Regions from separate parts of the Homo sapiens genome. Here region 1 is linked to region 2. Evidence: fine-mapped expression QTL. A gene starts in region 2. The other region holds a variant in brackets. All regions are shown on one strand. Distances are between the middles of the regions. Region 1 overlaps FRMD3 (FERM domain containing 3). Region 2 holds the start of FRMD3 (FERM domain containing 3).

Region 1 (5,386 bases), 290 kb before region 2:
ACCACAAAATATATTCCAAATACATAACATTTTACAATATTTTTCAAGCACAGACAAATACATACTTTACTTTACCTACATTGTTTTCATGATCCAACTTGCATTAGCACTAAAGGCAATATTGTGTGTGTATATGTATTTGCCATATGTGTGTGTGTATTATATATATTTATTTATATCCACAAATGTACACTCAGTGGCATTTATGGAAAATTTAACCCTTTCAGGCTGTGGGTTTTACCCACCATAGTATCTGAGAGGGAGAAGAACCAATAATACATCTCAAATTCCTCAATTAGGGCAAAATAAGCACAATTATGCATGAGGGGCATATATGTTGTGTCTATTCAAAGACACACATATATACAGATTCATATATAAACACACATATACCAATAATATGGAATATACATATACTCACACACTTGCTTTAAACTCTATATCTCACTCTATAATATACTGTCCATCTCTGGAAGCAGGCTTTTCCTCATTCGATTCAGGCAACTGGTGACTATCTTCTAACAAAACTTAAATGGATGTTTCTAAAAGGCTCTGATTCTATGCCGAGCAAATGGCATTTCAAGATTCCAGTTTAACTTTTGATGGCTGTTTAAATTCAGCAGACCCTATTCTGTCAACTTCTTCACTTAAAAACATTTCTATTCAACAATGAAGTTTCCACCTAAGAGAAAAGAGATGTTAGCTGGAAATGTTAAAATAATATATTTATTACTCCTTAAGATAAATCTGCATCGTTGGATTACATGTGATATTTATACTATCATATTTTTTAAGTATTTTACAATGGAAAATATATTAGTTCCATAATTTAAAAAATATTATATAATATTATTTTGAAAGACTGAGGGCCAGATGATTTGTCATAGTCAGAACTTTAGAGAAAATTATATGACGCATGATCAGAAGGGGACTAATTTTGTGCAGACTACACTAAAGTTGCCTTATGTCAGAAAGGATGACTTAGAAGTCGTATGAGAAAAGAAGGAGAAAAACACAAATTTCAATTTCAAACCTAGCCATCTGCAAGCTTCCAAAATAAATTGTTGAGGATTCCAATCACAGAAAATATATTCCTAAATCAGTATCAACTTTCAGGTAATAAACAAACAATCTTTATTTAAAAAGCAAAATAAATCACTGAAAGCATATAGGAAAGGAAACCCCTCAAACTTAATGGCAAATATATAGTCATTTGCTCGACTGCAGGCTTCACGAACTGAGTTTCAAAACTCATTTCCAAAATTAAATGTCCAGTGAAGTACTCAGAGCTCCACTGAGTGAGTGGAAATGTATTGCCCAATTTAGAAATCATGCTAATGATAGGGTTGGAATGTCATTAGCTAGAGAGAGCGATTCCAAGTGGGCCCTGTAACTTTGTACATTAGGGCAGTGGAATGTTTTCAATCCACAGAGAAGCTCTATGCTCCATGGCATAAGTTCTAGACTCTTATCTTTCTCCCACATAACACAGTATCAGCAGGTAGTCTGCATGGGAAGGCATCAGTACGTTGCTGATGGTACAATGCTCTAGTACCTTCCTTGATACCATTAAATTGTTGGATTAAATCCTTTCCATCATGGATTTAATGGTATCAAGGAAGGTACTAGAGCACTGGTCCCCTCTACAGTCTGGTTAGGGTCATGTCACTACTTTACCCAGGCTGAACTGGTATGTCATCTCATGAGGCCTCTCCAGTTTCTCTATGGAAGTCAAATTTTAAAACAACTGGGAAAGGAAAGGAGTATAATGACCACCGCAAAACATGATCATGGACATGTATCAAAAAGCCATTCATATTCTCTCTCTCTCTCTCTCTCTCTCTCTCACACACACACACACGCACACTCACATACAAACACATTTTTGAAGTTTCTTCTACAGAATCACAACAAATGGCATGAGGGATCAAAATATTTACCTTAAAGTTTCTCCACTTTTATTTAGATCCACTTAAACATGTTCATGTTAACTCAGACAGCGACTGCACTGCTCTTCACATCATCGAACGCTGGCATCACCATCACTTTCATAAAATAGACCATTCGCCTGTCACCATTTGCCTGCCAGCCTCACCAGAACTCATTTTTGCCACTTTCCATTTCTCCAGTTCCTATCTGCCTTCACTCTTGGGTTAATGTACATTGATATGCAACTGACTAGCACATCTGTTACCTTTTTTCCTTTAAACTCTCACTTTCTTTTTAAAACATCTGCTTCTCCAGCCAAAATATACGGACAGAATACAAATGAAAATAACAAGTCCTCTTGTCCAAATACTTTGAAAAATGGACCACCCTGAGTCCACTTGATGCTCTCAGTTTCTACATCCTCCAGTTCCATCCTCTGTTTTAGCAGCTTACTTACTATAGTGTCTTTCTACCCATTTTCTATCTCCTATGCAGATCATAACAAATTATGGTATTGTTCAGCCAAAAATATTTTTAAAAACAAAGTAGCGCCAAAACATTAAAAAAATTCTGATATACCTTTTGTGCATTAGTCTTACAATCTGTACATGTAAATAACTCCAGGAGGCTTCTTTTTTTTTTTTGCTAAAAATTTACCAAAATAGTTTGAACACATAAAAATATTTTTAAAAAAACAGAACCAAAAACCCAGCATAAATTTAGTTGTATAGGCATTGGTTAGAGGACACTGTTTTCACTAAGGATTATATTCAACAACTTTCTCTTGAGTTGTTACTAAAATTCTGATTCTGAACCTTATAGCTTATAATGGTGCCAACTATTAGAAATGGGAAAATCTAATTCAGTCCAATGTAACATGTATTATGATATAATAGATGAAGGGTATGTCTACACTATAATAAAAAATAAACATATTTTTGGTTATTTAAAGACCATCTTCCTAACCTGTAACTAAAATAACTGTATTTGATTTAAACTTATTTAAGTGCAGTGAATTATGGAAAGCTAACTTAAAGGTTTGAATAATCAATTATGAGTAAGGAACACCTGTTGACAGCCCCGTGACCCTTCAGAACCAGGCATTTGCTGAAAAAAAGAAATCA[CT/C]AGCATTGAATATAGCCCTTAGTCACGTGAGAGATTAACTTCATGAGCAACCCAGCATGTAGAGGATGAGGTGGACTTTCCCAGCCACCCACTCCTTGAGGGGACAGTAGTATTCATAGTGAAACTGCTCAAACTCTGGTGTCTGGCGGATTTCGCATAAGAAGGAGAGATCAATACCTGACTCCAAAAGGAGGAGGAGCAGGGGAAATACAAAGAGCAGCAGTCCCAGGCCCACCACAAGGAGCCTGGAAAAACTCTTGACCAGTGGGTTCACCCGAATATGGCCAGTCAGAATGTCATAGCTCCACGACAAAGCACGGCGAGCCTCCTTCAGCTCCTCTTCTTCAGCAATCAAAAAGGCGTTTTCATCTGCTTCCAGATCCTCAAATGAATCTGTGTCTTCTCTTTCCAACTCAAGCCTAGAAGGACAGTCAAAGAGCATGTCAATCTCATCGTCATCCACAGGGGTGGGGAGCAGGCTGGCACTTGGGTTGTACACTAGTTCAGAGATGGTTAAAGGTTCTTCTTTTATTTTATCTTCCTCTTCACTAGGGGGATCTTCATACTCCCGGGCTGCCTTCACTGGGGAGCTGGAGATCAAGGGAGCAGAAATGTTCTCCTCTTTAGGCAATGGAACACCTGTAAAGAGACATTTTTTTTTCTAAATTTAAAATTTCAGATTTTCCCACAAAAATCTGCAGGAAGAAACAGAAAAACAAAAAACTAATGGGATTCAAGCAATCTATGAAATTATTCTGTGGTATCCTAAGTTGTAACAAAGTCGTATTATAGTAAAAGACCCTGTACCATAAGTTCAAAGGTCAACATGCTAAACTCAAACTAACCAACACTTCTCAAATGGTTGGCAATATTTACAACATTTAGGTGTGCAATTTTGATCTGCAAACCTTGAACCTTGGCCATGTTTGCTTGAATAAAATGACAATAAATTCACTATTATAATTATGAGCACTGTTTTTTTAGAGGTCAACAATATCACCCGATATATTATAGTAAAACAACAGAATCTGTCATTCAATGACAATCTCTTTATTATTCTGATGTATTGCTTTCTAGTCTTCATTCTAGACACAATTTTGTGTTCTAGTTTTATATATTTGCAATCATATTATATACCCAAGCTTAAATCATGCTCCTTGCATTTAAAATTTTAACATAAATATTTTCTATGTTTAAACAAATTCCCATTGGTATTATTTATAAAAGCTGCCAAATTTTTTATTTAGTTATGCAATAAATTAGTTGCCTATTGTCAAACATTTAGATTGCTTTGCAGTTGTAAGGAGAAAATGCTATGAGACATCTTTACATATAAAGCTTTTTTTCCCCTCTTGTTTTAGTTCATTTGCTATAGATAGATGCTAGAAGGGAAATTGCTTAATCAAAGGGTAAGAACTTTTTCTAATGTTTATTGAGAGAGAGGTGTTTCTCAATGCCTCATTTTACTGATGGGAAATCGAGTTACCTATGGTCAGACCTAGGGCTAACTCTGCTAATTTTGAGTCTTGGATCCATAGTGGGAAATAAAGTTAGCATCAAAGAAGTGTCCTCCAGGATGGATCTACCATACAATCAAAATGGCAGCCAGGTGCATTTCGGGAACCATAAACCAGCTTTTAATGAATCTATTATGTGATTTTTCTCTCTTCAAGGTGTACAGGCATAACTTACTGGTTTTAGCATTCAAAAATCAACAGATATTTCATGATAGCTCTAGTCTGATAGCACTGAGAAGTCCAAATGAAAAATACCATAAAAATACAAGAAATATACAAAAGGTCAACAAGCACATGAAAGTATGCTGAACATCATTAATCATTAGGGAAATGCAAGTCAAAACCACAATAAGATGCTACTTTATGCCTACTCAGATGGCAACAGCTTTTTTAAAAACTGAAAATAACAAGTGTTGGTGAGGATGTGAAGACATTAGAACCCTGCATATTGCCAGTGAAACTATAATTGGTTCTGGCCATTGTGAGAAAAAAATTGACAGTTCCTCAAAAAATCAAACATAAAGTTATCAGATGACCCAGCAATACCACTCCCAGGTACATACTCCAAAGACTTAAAAACAGGTACTCAGAACGCTGGAACCCAAGCTGGCCAATTAGAGGCAGCTGTGGTCTGCAGCACTCATGGAGATGAATAAAAAGGGGCTAGTAAATGCAGCACCTTCAAACTGAGATACCCAGGTTCTCGCATTGGGACTGACTGGGCAAACAACTCAACCCACAGAGAATAAAGAAAAGCAGAAGAGGGGGTGATGGCCCACCTGGAAGATGCACAGAAGCAAAGGAGACCCCACCCC
Region 2 (5,386 bases):
ATTATTCTAAGGAAGACTTCATCCTGAGGGAGGGGAAAAAAATGTCAACACCAAGTGGTACAGGGCAGAAGAGGGCTGAGAGACAGAGGAGAACTCAACAGCCTCTCTCCCTGACGGCCCCTCCATCATCTACACATTCATTATGGGTTAAAGGACCTGTACACCCACTTTAGGACTTAAAGCAAAGTGCACAGTCCACACTCTCTGGATCACAAGACTATTAGTACATGCCAGATGCTTCTGTGCAACCCTTGTGGCAGTAGAAACACTGCCTATCCTGCTAATCCTTTTATTATTAAGTTTAGCAGTGCTGCTTAGCTCAGAATGAAATTCAAGCTCCCCCAGAAAATTCAATGGGAGCCTACTTTCCTGGGAGATCATGGGGCATCACATTCCTACCTTGACACTTGTCCGGCTGTCAGGTTACAAATTAATTGCAACTGCCCCCAACATGTCACACACTCCCACTAACAAAAATTAAATAAAAATAAAACAGGGAAAGTCCTTTCATTCCTTCATGGTTTGCACAGCCTAGAGGCTGATTCCTACTCTGGGAGATGCTGCCCCACTCACCTCCCACTGACATGGGTGGTGTGCCCTGTATTACACTAAAAAAAAAAAAAAAAAAAAAAAGCTCAGTCCCAGAGCCTCAAGACTCGACTAGGGTAGGTGAGAAAGGAAATCCCAGAGATAAACAGTTAAATAGATTTAGAAGTCAGAAGTTAATTGTGCTGAGCCCTGACACAACCTTTCCTGATTGTGTGCGCACCGAGTGGGGCATCTTTGGGGTCCTGGAAGAGGGGCTCCCACCTGCCTACATATTCACCCACAGCAAATATGCACACGCACGCGCAACCACATGCACACACACACCTTTGCACCTCACACTAGCTCTCCTGACAGCCCAGAGGCACTTACTACCCGAGGACAGGGCTGCCAGCAAAGCTGCCTTCTCCCAAACAACTCGCCTTCTCCTCCAACTTGGGCGACAGTGAATGTCCACCAAGATTCCACGGGGCTCTTTTACCCAGGACCCAGGTTCCTGCAGGGCTCCCCACTTGCTGGCCTCACAATCCCTTTTCCTTTCTCCGAAACACTCAGACTTCACACATTCCTTTCGAGGTAGCTCCAGTCCGGCGCAGCGCGCGCTCCATCCCTCAAGGCTGGCGCCCAGGGCAGCCCGGCCTCTCTCACTCTGGGGAAACTTCGCCACCGCCCCACGCGGAGAACTAAAGACCACCGGCGGAGGGTGAGGGGGACCGACACGGAGCGGAAAGCAGGTTCCGGGACTGAGGGCGTCTCCGGAGCCTGGGCGCGGGAGACAGAAATGAGTGAACCCAGCTGATGCATGCCTTCTCCACGTGGAAGAAGGGAGGAAATACCAGTGGGCGACATGCAGGTGCCCCTCTCAGCCCTCGGAGCTCCCATCTCCTGGCGGAGTAGGGCCCAGAGGGGCCAGAGTCCCTCCGGAGGCAGCTGCCCCGCGCCCCTAGCCCGGGCGCAGTGAGACGCGCGCGCAGGGTGCACGCGAGGGGAAGGAGACTGGGCGCGGATAACGCGTGCCTGGCGCTTGCAGGGCACCATGCCCCTCCATGCCAGGATAAGGCCCCCCACCCTCAGAGGCCTGAGGAATCGAAATCTGGCTTTCTAGCAGTCCCCCAATCCCCTCCGGGAGTGGGTTCCTTGTTCTCGCATGCCCACCGCAAAGGCCCCCCGCCCTGCTCCCGGCGTGTGCCCCGCGCCCTCGCCCGGTTCCACGCGCACCTGGATGTGGCAGGAGATCTCCGAGTCGTCCAGCAGCCGGATGGTGCATCTCATCTCCTGGCTGAGCGATTTGACGCTGGAGCTCCGAAAGTGGATCATTTTCATGGTCCTCCTGCCTCTCGGCACACAGTGGCAGGAGGCGAACATGCACCGCGGCCGTGGGGAGCGAGCGGGAGGCTCAGGGCCGGCGCGGTGCTCGCCTGCGCGGACACACACGCTCGCACGCACTGTCCGGGACACCTGGGCGCGGCTCAGCCCCGGGACATCGGCAGCGTCGGGCGCCTGCGGACACACATGCCCAGCGGCCGGGGCGCGGCGGGCGGGTCCCTCCCTCTGTTCGCTCGCCTCCGCCTCGCCCCCTCCTTTCCCCGCCTCCTTCTGTCGCGCGCGCTCGTGCGCCTCCCTCTGCCCGGGCTCGCTCGCCGAGGACGCCCAGAGCCTGAGACCCCCGGCGGGCTCGCGACGCACTCACTCCCACGCGCGCCGAGCAGCTGAAGGAGGAGGCGGAGGGATGGCTGGCGCGGCTGGCCCGGGTGCCCTGGTGGTGGCCTGCTCAGTCGCAGCCGCCGCTGCGTCAAGCTGGGCCCGACTGCCTTCCTCAGCCTCACCGCCTCCTCCCTCCCCTGGCCGCTGTCGCTCGGGCTCCCGGTTGTGCTCGTCCCGGCCCCGGCTCCCCAACGCGCTCGACAGCGCCCTGCTCTGCTCAGCTCCAGGGACCTGGCGCGGGTAGGGGACGGAGAGCGATCCTGACCCACACCGCCAGGGGGATTCCGCCTCGGGAAAGGATTGCTGGGCCCAGGGCGAGTGACAGAGAGAGTGACAGCCCTGACACGGCTACACCAGGAATATCGCTAATAGTAAAAATCTCTGGTACTCATGGAGATTGTTTAAGCCATTGTTTTATTTAATGCTAGCTAGGACTCAGTCTCTTTCTCCAAAAAAGAGCCTTCCATGTGCAAATCCTCCTTTAAATCTCCCAACATCTTAGTGTGATCTTTGATAGCATACCTTTGACCCGAGCAAGAGGGATAGGTTCCTATCCTACTCCCCTGCTTTACAGACCTCCTCCAGTTCCCGGTTGCTCAGGAATTAAGAGGTCTAATGGCAAAGCGGATGTGCCCCATCCCGTTTTAGTCCAATCTCTGGGTATTGAGGACTCTGGAATTCCCCACGCGCCTCCAGGGTGTTGAAGGTAGGAGGTATCCTGCCTCTCTGTTGTCCCCAAGGTGGCTAGAGCCACTGTGTCAGGTACCGTAGGCCCGAGAGTGGCCAGGAGCAGCTGTTGAGTCAGGGGTATGGAGCTTGAATGTGAGCACTAGAATGTCCAGGAGCTGGGAGAGATGGAAGTCCTCTCACCCTGTTGCTCTTGCCGGAGCAGAACAGGTCATTAGGAAGGAACATTTGTTAGAAGAGGAGGTGTTGACCAGCTGTCAGCTTTTTCAAGGTTTGTGCCTGCATAGAGTCCCCTCATCCAAAGATATGCCCTGTCCTGGGGGTCGAGGAAGAGTGGCACACAAATTTTACCTGCCCTGGACAGTCTGGTGGGCCATATATTCTCTAGGACACCTAGTGGGGTTGGCTAAGGTTTGGGGGAGTCCGCATTGCATTTGGACTTCTCTCTCTGCCTGCTCCTGCCTCCTCTCCCTGTTGATCACTAATAAATACCACACAGGACAAACTCAGTCTCAGTATCTGCTCCTGGAAATTCCAAATTGCAACAATTTGTCAAGATAGGAGGATAGAGAATGTTTTATGTAGCACTCAATAGCTGACTATTGCTTATGAATATTTAGATGATAGTATGGGGCATTCATGTAGGCTCTTGAGCTGGGCCCTTCAAATGTTAGGGCAGATCCTGATGGAGAGGTCAGTATTGAGGGTATGGGAAGATGTGGATTTCATTCTTGGCCCAGCTACTGGCTAATCCTGGGGATCTTTGAAAAGTCTCTCCATTTCTTTTCTCATTTCAAAGGAGAGAACACCTGTTCATCCCACAGGTGGCTGGGAAGCTGGTATGACACCGGGTCAGTGGAGGACATCTTACAGCTGTAATCTGTAAATCCCCATATGCACATATGAGGTGGCAGGGATGGGACCTGCCCCAAGTTGAAAACTGGATCATCTCTGCTAGCCAAAAGAGCAGACAGCCCAGAGATCAAAGAAAAGTCACCAGCCAAACAGTCCATGCTTTTCTTTTAAGACCACACACACACTTGTCCATCCTATTATAGTGACCGTTAGGCTCCAAAAGAGTCATATCAATACCCAAAAATTGTTACCCCAAATTCCAAGGAAGCAAAATAAGACCAACAAGGACAGTAGTGAAAAAGACAGAATAAAGATAACCCAATGTGGGACTGTAAGAAACAGAATTTTGAAGAAATGAGAAGAATCTGAGATTGGTTGTCTGGCCTGATTAGGAATAAAGGCTGAGATTCAACTAGTATGAAAATACAGGCTCTGGAAGCACTTGGCATGACAGCTAGGTAAATTACCAAGTATGGTCACCTGGATTGAACTACCCAATGAAGACAAGGCTCTGGGAAACCAACTGGCCATTGTCAACAATAATAATAATAATATGAAGATTAGGAAGAACTCAAAGAATGAACTCAAGGGATGAGTTTAAAACTGGACCACTGAAAGAAAAGTAGTGATGCACTAAGTCCTAAATTATCAGCTTATGACTTTTAAACAACTGTATTTTTACAAACAACAGAGCTCAAAGAATATCTTGTTAATTGAGCCACAAGGCCAAAACTGAAAAACCAAATTCACAATTTCATCTACAAATCGCCAAATTACAAAGTCAATTGAATTATCGGCCTCACAAGATTTTATAATTATCAGCAGGAAAGAGTGGGAATCTGGGAATAAGAATAGGACTATAAAAGAAAACTTGAATGATTCCTAGTCACTCAAGCCCCCAAACTCCCTTGGCAGCAGAAGCATGCCCTCTTCCTTATGTAACGAGGCTGTTCCTGCTTTGTTTGAAGATCCTCTTCGGAACTCACTTAAGGCAGTTACCTTGGAAAGGGAAGCCGATCTCCTCCCACCCCTCTCCCACCATCTCTGACTACTCTCACTCTTAATACTTGAACCAGATTCAGTCACACCCTAGGAGACCAACTATAAAGTCAACCCCAAGAAGAGAAAGAATTGCAAGATTCTGCTAATTTACATTGAAGAGTATATGTGTGAATAAACCTGAATCTGTCCATTTGAATTCACTTCCCAATGACTCTGGTTTCAATGTACTATCTAAATTGACTAACTGACTTCTGGACTCAGCTAAATGAAGATGAGAAAAAGGAAATTCCCTGGTACATGTACAGGAAAAGATCCAAAGAATCAAGGAGATGGAAATATTGCAGTGTATTTCCACATGTGGCCAGCTTACCTCTCTTTAACTGTGTCCCCTGAGGGGGCATCCACCAAGATTTTCAAAGAATCATTGGCAAAGGAAGGACTGCCATCTTTGAAAAGCACCAAAGTGGCTGTTCTTTGTAGCAAGAGATGGTTGTGAAAGACACTGCAGTCAAAAGGAGCTCCCTGACTTAAATGGGAAGGATGAGAGCCTGGGCTGGCAGAAGACAAATAGTGGTGCATGACTTAACCCTCA

The links. PIP is the estimated chance that this variant, and not a neighbour inherited with it, causes the effect.
Region 1: its variant is fine-mapped to the expression of FRMD3 in whole blood (TOPMed, PIP 0.94).

The regions. Positions count from the first base shown.
Region 1 is chr9:83,244,824-83,250,209 of GRCh38, forward strand. FRMD3 (FERM domain containing 3) reads right to left here. Exons shown (of 14, transcript NM_174938.6): 14 at 1-3,693. The coding sequence ends at 3,095. The region is part of intron 2 of FRMD3-AS1 (FRMD3 antisense RNA 1); the gene reads left to right. Among named protein-coding and RNA genes, the nearest start is that of FRMD3-AS1, 28 kb to the left of the region's middle. The variant CT/C (reference allele first, on the strand shown) is at 3,054.
Region 2 is chr9:83,536,321-83,541,706 of GRCh38, forward strand. FRMD3 (FERM domain containing 3) reads right to left here and starts at 2,081. Exons shown (of 14, transcript NM_174938.6): 1 at 1,765-2,081. The coding sequence starts at 1,911. RefSeq lists a silencer at 34-328.